4 linked regions of the Homo sapiens genome follow. The protein of the gene in region 1 interacts with the protein of each later gene in a biochemical or structural test. Each region holds a gene or a part of one and is shown in the gene's direction. Other genes may lie near its edges.

What was found. The genes of interacting proteins can lie anywhere in the genome.
Region 2: of the proteins of UBE2I (region 1) and TDG, one has a biochemical effect on the other in vitro, tested with the Homo sapiens proteins (3 studies listed by BioGRID).
Region 3: the proteins of UBE2I (region 1) and PIAS2 form a complex in vitro, tested with the Homo sapiens proteins (3 studies listed by BioGRID).
Region 4: the proteins of UBE2I (region 1) and PIAS4 form a complex in vitro, tested with the Homo sapiens proteins (4 studies listed by BioGRID).

The regions. Positions count from the first base shown.
Region 1 is NC_000016.10:1,322,862-1,326,987, forward strand, and holds part of UBE2I (SUMO-conjugating enzyme UBC9), read left to right. Parts: exon of another isoform or gene 1-1,868; coding exon 1,869-1,932; 3' UTR 1,933-4,126. UniProt on the Homo sapiens protein: Accepts the ubiquitin-like proteins SUMO1, SUMO2, SUMO3, SUMO4 and SUMO1P1/SUMO5 from the UBLE1A-UBLE1B E1 complex and catalyzes their covalent attachment to other proteins with the help of an E3 ligase such as RANBP2, CBX4 and ZNF451.
Region 2 is NC_000012.12:103,979,372-103,982,871, forward strand, and holds part of TDG (G/T mismatch-specific thymine DNA glycosylase), read left to right. Parts: intron 1-459; coding exon 460-701; intron 702-783; exon of another isoform or gene 784-1,256; intron 1,257-1,521; coding exon 1,522-1,591; intron 1,592-3,427; coding exon 3,428-3,500. UniProt on the Homo sapiens protein: DNA glycosylase that plays a key role in active DNA demethylation: specifically recognizes and binds 5-formylcytosine (5fC) and 5-carboxylcytosine (5caC) in the context of CpG sites and mediates their excision through base-excision repair (BER) to install an unmethylated cytosine.
Region 3 is NC_000018.10:46,890,008-46,893,507, reverse strand, and holds part of PIAS2 (E3 SUMO-protein ligase PIAS2), read left to right. Parts: exon of another isoform or gene 1-77; intron 78-2,453; coding exon 2,454-2,928; intron 2,929-3,500. UniProt on the Homo sapiens protein: Functions as an E3-type small ubiquitin-like modifier (SUMO) ligase, stabilizing the interaction between UBE2I and the substrate, and as a SUMO-tethering factor.
Region 4 is NC_000019.10:4,031,736-4,035,235, forward strand, and holds part of PIAS4 (E3 SUMO-protein ligase PIAS4), read left to right. Parts: intron 1-1,364; coding exon 1,365-1,438; intron 1,439-1,684; coding exon 1,685-1,845; intron 1,846-3,500.

The DNA.
Region 1 (4,126 bases):
TGATGGTGCATGCCTGTAGTCCCAGCTATTTGGGAGGCTGAGGTGGGAGGACTGCTTGAGCCCAGGTGGTTGATGCTGCAGTGAGCCAAGATTGCAGCCTGGGTGACAAAGTGAGACCCTGTCTCAAAAAAAAAAAAAAAAGCATGCCGGGCGCGGTGGCTCACGCCTGTAATCCCAGCACTTTGGGAGGCCAAGGTGGGCAGATCACGAGGTCAGGAGATTGAGACCATCCTGGCTAACACGGTGAAACCCCATCTCTAGTAAAAATAAAAAAAATTAGCCGGGCGTGGTGGCGCACACCTGTAACCCCAGCTACTCGGGAGGCTGAGGCAGGAGAATGGCTTGAACCTGGGAGGCGGAGCTTACAGTGAGCCGAGATCACGCCACTGCACTCCAGCCTGGGCAACAGAGCCAGACTCTGTCTCAAAAAAACAAAACAAAAGGCAAATGTTTTCCTGCCTAGCCCTTAGATGGTCTGCCATCCCCAGCATGGTGTGGGCGTGAGCTCTGTCTGGCCTGCACCCCATTTGCCGACCATCTCCAGAGCTGGGCTGTGGCTCCCATCTGCGGCGTGGGCTGGGCAGGGTTGCAGTCCCCCGCCCCGTGTGACTCTCCCCAGCGTCTCCTGGGCTTGGTGCCTGCTGGGCTGCACTGTACACTTGCGTGCACGTAAACAAACGTTCTTTCTCCTACACACATCCGCTTGAAAAGCACCCTTTGTGAAGCATGTGTGCGGGTTTCAGATCGTTTTTCCTGGGTTTCCTGGAGGCCTTGGACCGTGTTCCTGCCCTGGCAGGTGCCTTTTCTCGGGGCCTCTGCTTGGTCAAGGAAGAGCTGGGACGTGTAGCCACCGCCTCTGGTTCCTTCCACGCCCACCCAGCTGAGCTGCTCTGCCCTGGGGCCGGCTGGTGGCCCAAGGAGGGCGCTGGGGTCTGGGCTGCGGTCCAGGCCCTTGGCGTGGGTGGGGGTGGCACCGGCGCTGCTGCCGTCCTGGGCTGTTCCACCATGCAGAGTGAGGCTCAGTGTCTCAGACCAGGTCCAATCCTGGCGAGACTGGCAGGACTGCGACCCCAGGAGCCACCTCCATAAATGTCATGGTGTTCCCCCATCCTCAGGGTCACACTGCACCCTGTGACCCATCAGCCCCTAGGTGCAGCCTCGGCCGCCCTCCCGCCCACCTGTTTTGCCCGGGCAGTGTGTGCCATGCCACTCTCCTGGGCAGCTGCTTGCAGGCTGAGCCTCACTCTACCCAGCTCCAGACCTGTTCGCTGATGCCCCTGCACTGCCCAGCTCGGGCACAACGCCTTCTCAACCAGGCCTGCCTTCCCACACCTTTGCCCCTGCGGCTGAGAGCCTCATGGAAAAACCCTCCAGAAATTGGTGTCTATTTTTGGGAATTAACAAAAACAGTGGCAAGCAGTCAGTGTTTTCAGTTTATTAGGACTGTCCCCAGACCTACAGAAAAGAGAAGCTGCTGATTACTAGTTAGGACCAGACTTGGCATCGGCAACGATGTTGCAGGCCCTGGCGTGGGCCCTCTGGGCCTGAGCCCTCCTCGCAGCCCTGCGGGACCCCTCTGTCCCCCTTGAACACCACGTTCACCCAGCGTGGGTTCCTCTCCTCCCTGCCCTTCTGCCCCCGTCAGACCACGGGACAGTCTCAGCCACGTCAGAGCCAGCATGGGCTCCCCACCACGCAGGCCTCCCTGCTTCTCCGGGCTTCTGCTTCTGTTACTATGACGAGCTCCACACTGCCCTCCCCCAGGAGGTCCCATCCTGCAGCCTGGTCTGCCCAGCTGGCTCCGGGGCGAGCGTGAGGGCCAGGCAGCTCAGCCCTCTAACACGTCTCTTCTCTTTTGACCTCCTCAGCCAAAACAGAGTGGAGTACGAGAAAAGGGTCCGAGCACAAGCCAAGAAGTTTGCGCCCTCATAAGCAGCGACCTTGTGGCATCGTCAAAAGGAAGGGATTGGTTTGGCAAGAACTTGTTTACAACATTTTTGCAAATCTAAAGTTGCTCCATACAATGACTAGTCACCTGGGGGGGTTGGGCGGGCGCCATCTTCCATTGCCGCCGCGGGTGTGCGGTCTCGATTCGCTGAATTGCCCGTTTCCATACAGGGTCTCTTCCTTCGGTCTTTTGTATTTTTGATTGTTATGTAAAACTCGCTTTTATTTTAATATTGATGTCAGTATTTCAACTGCTGTAAAATTATAAACTTTTATACTTGGGTAAGTCCCCCAGGGGCGAGTTCCTCGCTCTGGGATGCAGGCATGCTTCTCACCGTGCAGAGCTGCACTTGGCCTCAGCTGGCTGTATGGAAATGCACCCTCCCTCCTGCCGCTCCTCTCTAGAACCTTCTAGAACCTGGGCTGTGCTGCTTTTGAGCCTCAGACCCCAGGTCAGCATCTCGGTTCTGCGCCACTTCCTTTGTGTTTATATGGCGTTTTGTCTGTGTTGCTGTTTAGAGTAAATAAACTGTTTATATAAAGGTTTTGGTTGCATTATTATCATTGAAAGTGAGAGGAGGCGGCCTCCCAGTGCCCGGCCCTCCCCACCCACCTGCAGCCCCACCGCGGGCCAGGACCAGGCTCTCCATCTGCTTCGGATGCACGCAGGCTGTGAGGCTCTGTCTTGCCCTGGATCTTTGTAAACAGGGCTGTGTACAAAGTGCTGCTGAGGTTTCTGTGCTCCCCGCATCTGCGGGCTGTAGAGCGCTGGGCAGCTAAGATCTGCATAGGTCGGGATTGGCATCGAGACCCTGGCAACTGCACCGGTGCCAGCTGTCTTGGGGGCCACAAGGCCAGGTCCAGACCAGGGCTGGGGGCTGCCTGAGGACTCCTATCCGGGCAGCCTGCTGGCGGGGGTTCCCCTCTTCAGTGGCCAGGTCACAGGGATGGAGCTGCGCTGTGCATAGGGTGCCACCTCAGGTGTCTGTCCCTTGTGTCCTCAGGAGGCAGCCTTGCTACCACCCGTGGCAAACGCCAGGTGCTTTTTCTGGGAGAGCCCACAGCCGTGGCCCTCCAGGGCTTCCCCGACCCTTAGCGCCAGGTAGAGGGCCCTGGGCAGCCTGTGTCTGGAATTCTTCGTCCTGAGGCCACCTGAGTGTGGTCTGTCCTGGGGAGGCTGTGCGCCTCAGCAGCCGTCCTGACGCTGAGCCCTCTGCAAAGGTTGGGCCGGCCAGGCCTCTTGGGGCTGCCTGAGCCACTGCAGGAAGTGGCCTGGCTGGGAAGTTGGGTGCCGGTCACCTCCCAGCAGGAAGGCACAGTGGACAGAGATGGGAAGCCCTGGGGGACACAGCCCGGTGCTCCCAGCCCTCCAACCTCTGGCTCCCAACCCAGTCTCCCCATCCTAGCGAGCTTGGCCCTCCTCAGTTTCGTTTCAAGCCTTGGGGCTGGAGCTGGCCCTGCTGCCCTGGCACCCCCCGGTGGCTGGAGCTGGGTCCCCGTGGCCCAAGTGCAGGGTCCCAAGAGGGCAGGGCGGGGCTCCCCAAAGGAGCAAAGAATGCAGGGAGGGCGGTCCAGGGCCCTGGGAAGGGGAGCTCGGCACCCTCCAGGTCCGTGTGGGACTCCAGCCGCTGTTGGCTGGGAATCGAAGTTAGAGGTGACTTCCAAAGGCCCCCCGAGCCGGCAGTGCCCCCCACCACCCCTCCAGCGACTCTGCGGTGCCAGTGCCTTGTTGGCTTTTCCGGCTACGCACCCTGCAGTCACTGAGCTCTCGGTCTGACGTCTGATGTTTGTGGTTTGTTTATAACACGGGGCCTTACCTGGGGAATTCAGCTGGTTTGAATATTTGTAGCCCGCTCCCAGAATGTCTTATTTTGTAATGACTGAACTACATTTAGTAATAGTTACACATGTATATGGTTAATACATATGGAAATTCAATATATTTTGTAGTTAACGTATTCTGAAGTAACGGATGTTTCTCGCCAATCGTAGTGACTTCAGCTAACGAAATGTTCTTTTGTAGTACCACGGTCCTCGGCCTAACGAAGGACGTGAACCTTGTAAGAGGAGAGCTCTGAAACGCGGTCACCTTTGTTTAGTGGAAGGGAAAGTGTGTTCCCGGCATGAGGTGCCTCGGAATTAGTAAAGAATTGTGGGCAATGGATTAACCACTGTATCT
Region 2 (3,500 bases), on another chromosome or scaffold:
GGGATTACAGACATGAGCCACCATACCTGGCCCATTTGTGGTTTTCTACTGGGGAAGTTGAGTTAAAATGTTTCCCTTCCTTCCTGTTTCTCTATTTTTCTGTTCTTATTTAATTATTTATGTATTTACATTTAGAATTTATATAAAATGATATGTAGATACTTTGTATCCTTGAGGAGGTTAAGATGCCAAGTAATACTGTGTCGAAAATAATAGTCTATGATTATTCTTCCCACGAACAGCTAGCAGGGGAAGGAGAGTGGCATGGGGGGTTGCACGAACCCAGTTCTAGGGAGAAAGAAAGGGAAGATATTGCAGAGGAGACTCATGTTGGGACTGTAAGAGCTTAATTTTGGGGAGACAGGTACAAAAGGTGCTAGTTGGGTAACTTTTCTGGGAAAGCTGCTAAAGTTTCTAAGTTAAGATTTTCTGCATTTCTGGAAATTATTTGTATTTCAGAGGCTCCAAAAGGAAGAAAAAGAAAACCCAGAACAACAGAACCAAAACAACCAGTGGAACCCAAAAAACCTGTTGAGTCAAAAAAATCTGGCAAGTCTGCAAAATCAAAAGAAAAACAAGAAAAAATTACAGACACATTTAAAGTAAAAAGAAAAGTAGACCGTTTTAATGGTGTTTCAGAAGCTGAACTTCTGACCAAGACTCTCCCCGATATTTTGACCTTCAATCTGGACATTGTCATTGTAAGATCTTTGTCCTCGTTGGATTTTATAAGTAGTATTGGGGGATCAGCTTTACTTAACAGTTGTCCTTGCAAATAGCATTTTGCTGAAAAGGACCATTTCTAAGAATCCTTTTGGTGGTAAATGGTGTCAGCTTCATGAGGTTGTGTTATATGAGAGTGTTTAAGAGGGTGGGCTCCAAATTTAGACTGTCTGGGTTCAAATCCTGTCACAAGTATAATCTTGGATAAGTCTTATTAACCTTTCTAAACACCGGTTTTCTCATTGATAAACCAGGGGTGATAATACCACCCCCCGATAGGGTTGCAAGTAAATGAGAGAATCCATGTGAATCACTTCAACTGAATGATGCCTGTGGAGACCTGATACATGGCAGCACTAATTTTAAGCTCTTATTTTTCTCAGTAACTGTAAGAAACATCAGCATGTGAACAATTGTGTAGGTGATGTGGAGCGAGCTTCTTGTTGAAAGTTGAGAATCAGAATTGTGGCTGGACATGGGCTCAGATTGATTGTTCCAGGACCTGTCTTTCCAGACTCAAAGCAGCCCAGTTGGTGAGGGTGCGAGGCCTGGGATCATAAAGGAGTCAAACTGGTTTTTTAAAATAACAGCAAAACTTTTAAAATAAAGAAAATCTCTTTCCCATATATGAAATACTTTGTTCAGATCAAGAGTAGTAATTGATAAATGATATTGCTTATGATGCTGAATTAAATTTGTATTTTAATCAACTCAATTTTGTCCACCACTCCTCCATAGAAACGCTAAGGCTTAGGTCCTGCTTTTTAAGATGAAATGTCTAATTGTTTTGTTTTATAGATTGGCATAAACCCGGGACTAATGGCTGCTTACAAAGGGCATCATTACCCTGGACCTGGAAACCATTTTTGTAAGTGGTTACCTTTTAAATTAATTTACTTTTAAATTAGGTATCTTTGTTAACAGGTTTTTTCAGAAAAACCAATTGTGTTTTTAAAAAGAAAGAGACTGTAAATACACATTCGTGTTTCATGTTCTGTGTGTGTGTCTGTACGTGAAAATAAGAGAGTTTGAAATGATATGTTACTGTTAACATTTTAGTCTATGAGAATGGAGGGATGTGAATAAGAGTACTTTCTCTTTTGTTTGAATTGTTTCTAATGAGTTGTACTACTTTTTTTTTTTTTTTTTTTTTTTTTTGAGATGGAGTTTCGCTCTTTTTGCGCAGACTGGAGTGCAATGGCGCGATCTCGGCTCACCACAATCTCCACCTCCCAGGTTCAAGTGATTCTCCTGCCTCAGCCTCCCTAGTAGCTGGGATTACAGGCATGTACCACCACGCCTGGTTAATTTTGTATTTTTAGTAGAGACGGGGTGTCTCCATGTTGGTCAGGCTGGTCTCGAACTCCCGGCCTCAGGTGATCTGCCCACCTCAGCCTCCCAAAGTGCTGGGATTACAGGCGTGAGCTACAACGCCCAGCCAAGTTGTATTACTTTTTAAAAATGATTTTTTAAAAGTTGTTATCTATAGGCATAGTAACGATAGTATAGTACATCTTTGTGGCAGTGCAGACATAATACTAACTTTCCCAGATTTCTGGTGATTATTTTCTAGCAGAGCATAAAATAGTAGTAAAGACTCATATTTTTAGAGTAAGTTTTAAAACCAAGTGTTGGCTGGATCTGGTGGCTCACACCTGTAATCCCAACACTTTGGGAGGCCAAAGCAGGAGGATCACTTGAGGCCAGGAGTTTGAGACTAGCCTGTACAACATACCAAGATCTCATTTCTACAAAAAAATAAATAAAAAATTAGCTGAGTGCTGTGGTGCACACCTGTAGTTCCAGCTACTACGGAGGCTGGGTTGGGAAAATTGCTTGAGCCTGAGAGGTTGAGGCTGCAGTTAGCCATAATTACTCCACTGCACTCCAGCCTAGGTGACAGAACTAGACCCTGTATCACAAAAACAAACAAGAAAACAAACAAAAAACAAGCGTAACTACTGTTGCATTGCCTTCTCTATATAAGTTGTCTTGTATATAAATCATCTTATTTTATACTGCCTAATAGATCAGTGTATGCAGTATACGCTCAGGAAATTGATTATCTAATAGTAACATTCAAAACATTTAGGGCAACTGATAGTAATGTGGTTTTGGAACTAATAATAACATATTGTCCCTATTATTTTAAAAAATTCCTTTTTAAGGGAAGTTTGGACTTTTGACTTTCTTCACTGTCAAGGTGTTTGAATGTTGTTAGTCTAGTGCTGTATGTTTACGTGTGAGGTGGTGGTATCACCAATTGTAAAGCAAAATAGTCTCAAAGTTTCCTAAACTGAGTTGCTATATATTCTTGGGCAGGCATTTGCCTCAACCCCCTGTGAAAAGGAGATAATAATAGTATCTTGCAAGATAATTATGATGATTAAATCCAAGCGCTGTGGCTCACACCTGTAATCCCAGCAATTTTGGAGGCTGAGGTGGGAAGATCACTTGAGCCCAGGAATTCAAGACCAGCCTGGGCAACATGGTGAAACCCTGTCTACAAACAATACAAAAATTAGCTGGGCGTGGTGGTGTGCATCTGGGGTTCCAGCCACTCAGGAGGCTGAAGTGGGAGGATTGCTTGAGCCTCGGTGGTCGAGGCTGCACTGAGCCATGATCGTGCCACTACACTCTAGCCTGGGTGACAGAGCGAGACCCTGTCTAAAAAAAAATAAATAACTGAATTTTCATTTTACAGGGAAGTGTTTGTTTATGTCAGGGCTCAGTGAGGTCCAGCTGAACCATATGGATGATCACACTCTACCAGGGAA
Region 3 (3,500 bases), on another chromosome or scaffold:
TCCTTTGCCAAATAATGTTATCACTGGAAATATGAGATATGAGACCTCCTAGAAATTCCTCTGAGAGTCAAGCTTAGGTAGGATGACTTTGTGCTTTGTTTTGTCATTTCTGTAAAATAGCTTCCCTTAAAATGAAGAATATCTGACAATAAGTATAAGGAGTGAAGCAAAGTAGTGAATTCTGAGTTAGAAAAAATCAGTTATGTTTTATCTGTGTGATTGCCTTTTTTAGTATTAGTGTTCCACAATCAATTGAAGTATTTACTAAGATTGAGGGAAAGATGCATCGTATTACTTGCTTGGGTAAACCCTTCCCAAGAAGCTGTTGTCTTCTGTTTAATGCATGAGATGTTGAGTAAGCTGTGACTGGTTTGTTATGAGATAGGCCAAAAGTTTTCTTGTTTTCCTTCTTTGTTGTCTGCACTGTAGAGGTAACACACATTGTGGTATGTGTTCTATTAGAGTATGATTTAGAGCTACCACAGTGTGGTAGCTAGTGGCCACATGTGGCTCTTAAGCACTTGAAATGTGGTTAGTCCAAATTTAGATGTATTGTAAGTGTAAAATATACACCAGATATTGAAGACTTAGTATAAAAAAAATCCCACTGACACTTTAAAAAATGATTATTTTTAAATTACAAAAATTGATTGCATGTTGAGATGAAAAGATAGTTTTGATATATTGGGTTAAATAACTATGTTAATGTAAATTATCATTATTATTATTATTATTTTTGAGACAGTCTTAATATTGCCTAGGCTGGAATATGGTGGTGTGATCACAGTTCACTGTAGCCTCAAATTCCTGGGCTCAAGTGATCCTCTCGCCTCAGTCTCCTGAGTGGCTTGGACCACAGGCACACACACCACCATGGCTGGCTAATTTTTAAATTTTTGTGGAGACGGGGTGTTAGTATGTTGTCCAGTGTGGTCTCGAACTCCTGGGCTCAAGTGATCCTCTTGTGTTGGCCTCCAAAAGCACTGGGATTATAGGTGTGAGCCACTGTTCCTGGCCTAAATTAGTTTTTTTAATGTGACTACTAGGAGGTTTAATGTGTGTCTTCTATTAATTTGTGTTGGACAGCACTGAATTAGAGTATAAAATGGCTTGCCAGGATTACAATTTAATATTCTCTCACTTGTACATTATGAAATATAGAGACATATATAGTACACAAAGTACAGTTATGACAGTGTATATGGATTACTTTGGCATATTTAAATCTGTTTGCATTTTAGTAAACTAGCAAGTATTTATACCAACAAGTATTTAAAAACCATATAGGGTTTTAAACAGTTGCTTCTGGGCCGTCCCTGAGACTTAAAAAGTACAGAGCAACTGCCCCACATTTCCACTATACTGATGAGACAAGCAGGTTGAAAAGGAATCCCAAGTGACTGTGGAGTGTGTAGCACGGGCTGGGTTGGGGGAGTGATGAGGATGGGATGGGACACCAAACCACAGGTAGTTCTCCTGGGTAGGTTTCTGACAGGGCTTTGGTCAGCTCCAGGTGTTCTTCCTCTTTCTTGCTAGATGATGCATGTGTGGTATCTGACCCAAGTGTGATTTGCCTCTGAGTTCAGAATTGACTGGAAATCACTAAGTAGGTGGATTCCTGAGGCTGCAAGGGGTTAAAAATATTCATTAAGTTTTGCTGAAAAAATAGAAGGTGTGATGTGAAGCTGCAACTGCTTATAACCTTTGTTTTACGCCCAAGCACAAGCCAGTAGAGTAGTGTGGAGGAAATGTTGCCCTTTAAGATTGATGACTGCTCATTTCCTTGCTCTTCAAAGGTCTTTTTCTCATTTGGATACCCAGCTGGGAATTTCAGTTGTTTTAGAAGTTTGACTGCTAAATAAGATGTATGTGATTTTTTAGCTTTAATATTTTAAAATATCTTTATTATGTTGTTTGTTTGTTAATGTTTGAATTGGGGTAAAAAATTCATTGCATTTTGGATCACAGTTCTGACTTGATTTTTATGGATTTACTACTCAGCATCAAAAGTTACACATCTAACATTGTGAAAATCTGATTTTTTGTTTGGTTAATTGGCGATAATTCTGTAACAAACATTACATTGTATATTGGGAGGGGTTGGTTTTGAAAAGGAGTATATTCATTGGTGATAGATTTTATAGTCATAAAGCAAATAACTGTTTGCATTAGAGCATAATCAGATAATGAAGTGGTTAGTAGAAACCAATAGACTATAGATTACCAAAATTAAGATCTTGTACAACAAAATATAATTAACACCGTAACTTGAATGTAATTTTTACGGGATTGTCTTATGAATGGTAATGATTCTAAGTGGTATGTGAAATGCTGTTACTAGCACATGCCAATTGATAGAATGCTGGAAAAATCACATTTTACATTATATTTTAGATAGGATTTTTGTATGCTTGAGGGTGACTTGGCTTATGTTTTTTTTTCTTTCCTTTTAGAATATGGTTTCTAGTTTTAGGGTTTCTGAACTACAAGTATTACTAGGCTTTGCTGGACGGAATAAAAGTGGACGCAAGCATGACCTCCTGATGAGGGCGCTGCATTTATTGAAGAGCGGCTGCAGCCCTGCGGTTCAGATTAAAATCCGAGAATTGTATAGACGCCGATATCCACGAACTCTTGAAGGACTTTCTGATTTATCCACAATCAAATCATCGGTTTTCAGTTTGGATGGTGGCTCATCACCTGTAGAACCTGACTTGGCCGTGGCTGGAATCCACTCGTTGCCTTCCACTTCAGTTACACCTCACTCACCATCCTCTCCTGTTGGTTCTGTGCTGCTTCAAGATACTAAGCCCACATTTGAGATGCAGCAGCCATCTCCCCCAATTCCTCCTGTCCATCCTGATGTGCAGTTAAAAAATCTGCCCTTTTATGATGTCCTTGATGTTCTCATCAAGCCCACGAGTTTAGGTAAGTGTTTGAGAATTCAGTTTCTTCTGAACAAGATAGTAAATGAAATGAGAGACCTTCAACTATTGATTAATGATGTGCTGTTAATATAGTGAAATTGAGGCATCAATGCCGAATGTTTGAATATACGGATAAAAATTCGGCAACCATGACTGAAATCTAATAGAAGCTTTATTTCATATCATTTGATCTTTCTTCTTCTCCAATTCTTTTATTGTAAAATACACATAATATAAAATGTATCATCTTGATCATTTTAAAGTGTACAGTTGAGTGGTGTTAAGTATGTTGGTAATGTTGTGCAGCCATCACTGCCATCCATCTCCAGAACTCTTTTCATCTTCTGAAGCTGAAACTCTGTACCCATTAAACAATAGCCTTCCTCTCCTCCTCTCCCACTAGCCCCTGGCAGTTACCATTCTACTTCCACTGTCTATGATTTTGACTATTCCAAGTACCTCATGTCGTTGGAATCATACAGTATTTGTCTTGTGACTGGCTTATTTCACTAAATGTAATGTCCTCAAGGTTCTAGCATGCTGTAGTTTATGTTAGAATTTCTTTCCTTTTAA
Region 4 (3,500 bases), on another chromosome or scaffold:
CAGCCTCTCTGTCACTGGATTTCTTTCTTGCTGCACCTAGGAAGTCCTCACCTTTGCCTCACTTGAACCCTTCCTGCTGCGCACGTCTCTCCATACACAAAGGAGGGAGAGTTTGCTTTAAAATCAGATGGGCACCTGCATCCCCTCCTAGCTGCCCCTTTGCCAGGCTTGAGGGTCCACCCGGGCACCGGGTAGCCAGAGCTGGGATCCAAGGATGGAAACTCAGCTGAGGAGTGAGCGGCTGGGGCAGCCTTGGCTCAAGCAGGGGAGCTGCTGGGAGCCAGCACGTGGCTGCCACCACGTCCCCACGGGAGAAGGAAGAGCCCACTGCTCCACACCCCGGCTGGGGGTCTGGGTGGGGGTCAGGAAGGAGGAAGTGGCTCCCAAGCGGGCAGAGATAAGTGGTGTTTCAGGCCAATAAGGGGTGGTAGGGGCATTTCCAGGCGGAGGAACGTCAGGACAGCTGGGGGGAGTGGGGGGGCAGGCTGGCACCATCACTCTGGACCCCAAGTCACTTGGGCAGGTGGCTTCCTGGAGGAAGCAACACTGGTCCACCAGGCAGCTGAGGGCCAGGTGGTGGATGGAGAGGCCCTGTGGGTTGTGGGCCAGGGTGGCCTGCCCCCCATGGCCCAGGGCTGGGGTCTCTCCTGAGCTACCCATGGATGGAGTTTACCCTGGGATGGAGCCACATCCCAGAAGCCTCAGGAGGGCAGCCAGGGTCCCTGCGTGAGTTTCCTTCTGGCTGTGGGCCTGCTGCCCGTCGAGGGGAGGGCGGCGCCTGCCTCCAAGACTTCATGTTTCACATATGTTTCCCCATGTTCCGTGCAGCTTGCTGGCGGGCACCGTCTTTTCCTTTAAAGAAGCAGCTACACTCCTGTCTGCAGGCTGCCTTGGGGCGGTGCTGGGGCTGGGCGGCAGCCGCTTGCTGGCTCACAGCCAGGAAGCCCCAGGATCCGTCTCCCAAAGAGTCCCTGCCTCATTCCCCGCTGTGGCCTTGGGGATGGTGCTTCGGTGACAGAATGAAGTCACAGCAATGACTCTTTCGGTGGCTGTGTTGCATGAAACTTGCCAGAAAAGTCCCATGGGTCATAGTCCACGCAGGGTGGGGGAGGCCACATAGGCCACCTCCGTGTGGGGGCTTCGGCTGGGTCTGTGCTGTGCCCAGGTTGTGGTCAAATCTAATGGTGGTTGCCACCCGGCTTTCTCCAATCCCTCACGGCCCCGAGCCACACAGCGAAGCTTGGGACTCATCGTCAGGGGCCTGTTCTGGGAGGTGGACGTCAGTGCCGGAGAGAACTCGAATCACAGCCCCGCGCCCTGCTGTTCCCACCCTCCTGACGGTGTCTTCCGTTCCCTCCCCACAGTCAAGGAGAAGCTGCGCCTTGATCCTGACAGCGAGATCGCCACCACCGGTGTGCGGGTGTCCCTCATCTGTCCGGTGAGTCGGGGCGCGGTCCCCTCCTCGAGGCCTCTCCTGCGGCCGGCCTTCCCCCCTGGCGGCCCTGGGCCCGGGGCGGCTTGGCTGGGCCGTGAGCCTGCGGGGGCGAGGCTGGTCTTCGTCCCCTCCGTGTTCCTGAGGCATGAGTGATTGGAGCGAGCCACAGGATGGAGCTGGGGGTGAGGGGCACCGGGCAGGCGGGCACAACAGGAGGGGTGCCCTGCTCACGCAGCCCCTCCCCCACAGCTGGTGAAGATGCGGCTCTCCGTGCCCTGCCGGGCAGAGACCTGTGCCCACCTGCAGTGCTTCGACGCCGTCTTCTACCTGCAGATGAACGAGAAGAAGCCCACCTGGATGTGCCCCGTGTGCGACAAGCCAGCCCCCTACGACCAGCTCATCATCGACGGGTGAGCCCGGGGCCCCGGGGAGGGCGGCCGGAGCCGGACATCCGTGGAGGTCTCGGTGGCACCCCGCTTCCTGCAGACCACATGGTGCCCCAGCAAGACACAGCAGTGGGGGCACATGGTCCTGGAGCTTTGGAAACCCCGGGCTGCGAAAAGAGCCGGTTTCTTTCTCGCGGAACTTCTCAGAGCCTTTGCTATGCAGGTGACAGCCACGTAGCTTAGGTTGCAGAAGGTGGGCTCCGGTCCACCCCGCTCCCACGTGACCTCAGGCAAGTGTGACCCTGAGCTCCAGGAGTGTGGTTTGTGCCACAAAAAACTGAGCCAGGTCGTGCTTTCACACGGCGTTCACCCCAGGACGCGCAGCCTTGGGGGTGACCTCCTCACAGAAAGGCAAAGGAGGTGGCGCCTCCTGGAGCACTCTGGCTACGCCATGCCCTTCCCTTCCTAGGTGGCACAGCTGTGGCCAGGCATTCCCCAGGCCACAGGGGACAGGAGGACAAGACCTTTCTCCCTGGTGGAAGGCTCTGCCCAGGGCTTAAGTTTCCAGAAACTGAGCCCCGTTGTCTGTGGTGCCTGATGCGGCTCCTGCCCGGCGCCGACCGCGCCCACCTCGTCCCCAGAGCCGCCGGCAGGGCGCGAGGCCACAGCGGCACAAGCTGGCGCCCTCACAGGCGGGAGCAGGCCCTGCCTGTGGGGGTGGGCCGGGTCCCCAGCCCTCAGGCATGGCCTCAGCGGACTGTGCAGGTGAAGGCAGGGCTGGCCTGCCTCTGGGGTTGTAGATTTCATCCCCAGGTGGACCTCCGGTTCATGCACTTGTCCCCATCCCAGGAGACAGACCTGTGAGCGTCCTCAGTTTACAGACGAGGAAACAGGCTCAGAGGAGGCAACCAGCAGCTGGAGCTACCCCGGCTCACGGGGCCAGGCTGAGACTTGAACCCAGCCTGAGTCTGGGTCCCCTCTGTGGAGGGCTGGGTGGCCACCCCCTTGCATCCCAGCTTCGGGTAGAGAGAGGAGTCCTTTGGGCCGGGCACGTGGGCTGCCTGAATGGCTGCTCTGTTCCCAGCCTGACAGCTGTGCAGCCGGGTGCCCGCCTTCCCCCACAGGCCCGGAGTGGGGCTTGGGCTTGGGGTGGCGGCAGCTCTCACAGCTCCAGGGCCACCAGGGCTGGGGCAGGCAGCTGTGTCCCATGCAGGCCTTGGCCTCAGCAGCCCATGGGACTCGGTGTAGCCAGGGAGGCTTCCTGGAGGAGGGGTCCTTGGTTCATACTTTGTTCCATGAGCCCTATCACCTCTCTGTCCCTGGCTCTGAGCTGGGTGACCCCAGGGTCCCCAAAAGAGCCCCGTCCCAGACCCTGCCTTCAGAGTCTTGTTCTTGGCCAGGGGAGCGGATAGAGGAGCAGAGCCAGACATAAACGTTCCCGTTGCTGTGTGTGTCTTGGGGAGGAGGAAGAGAAGCTGTGGGGTGGGGCTTTGGAGGGTGAAAAGCAGTTTTGCAAGCAGGGAAGTGGGCAGGCAGGGCTGTGCTACGCCTGGGGCGGCCCTGGCACGGTGGGCTCCGAGCATCGCCTCAGAGAGAGCTCGGCGGGGCGGAGGGGCTGGCCTGGGTGAGAGCCTCAGAAAGGGTGGCCCAGAGTGGGACGAGGGCTCTCCTGTGTGATG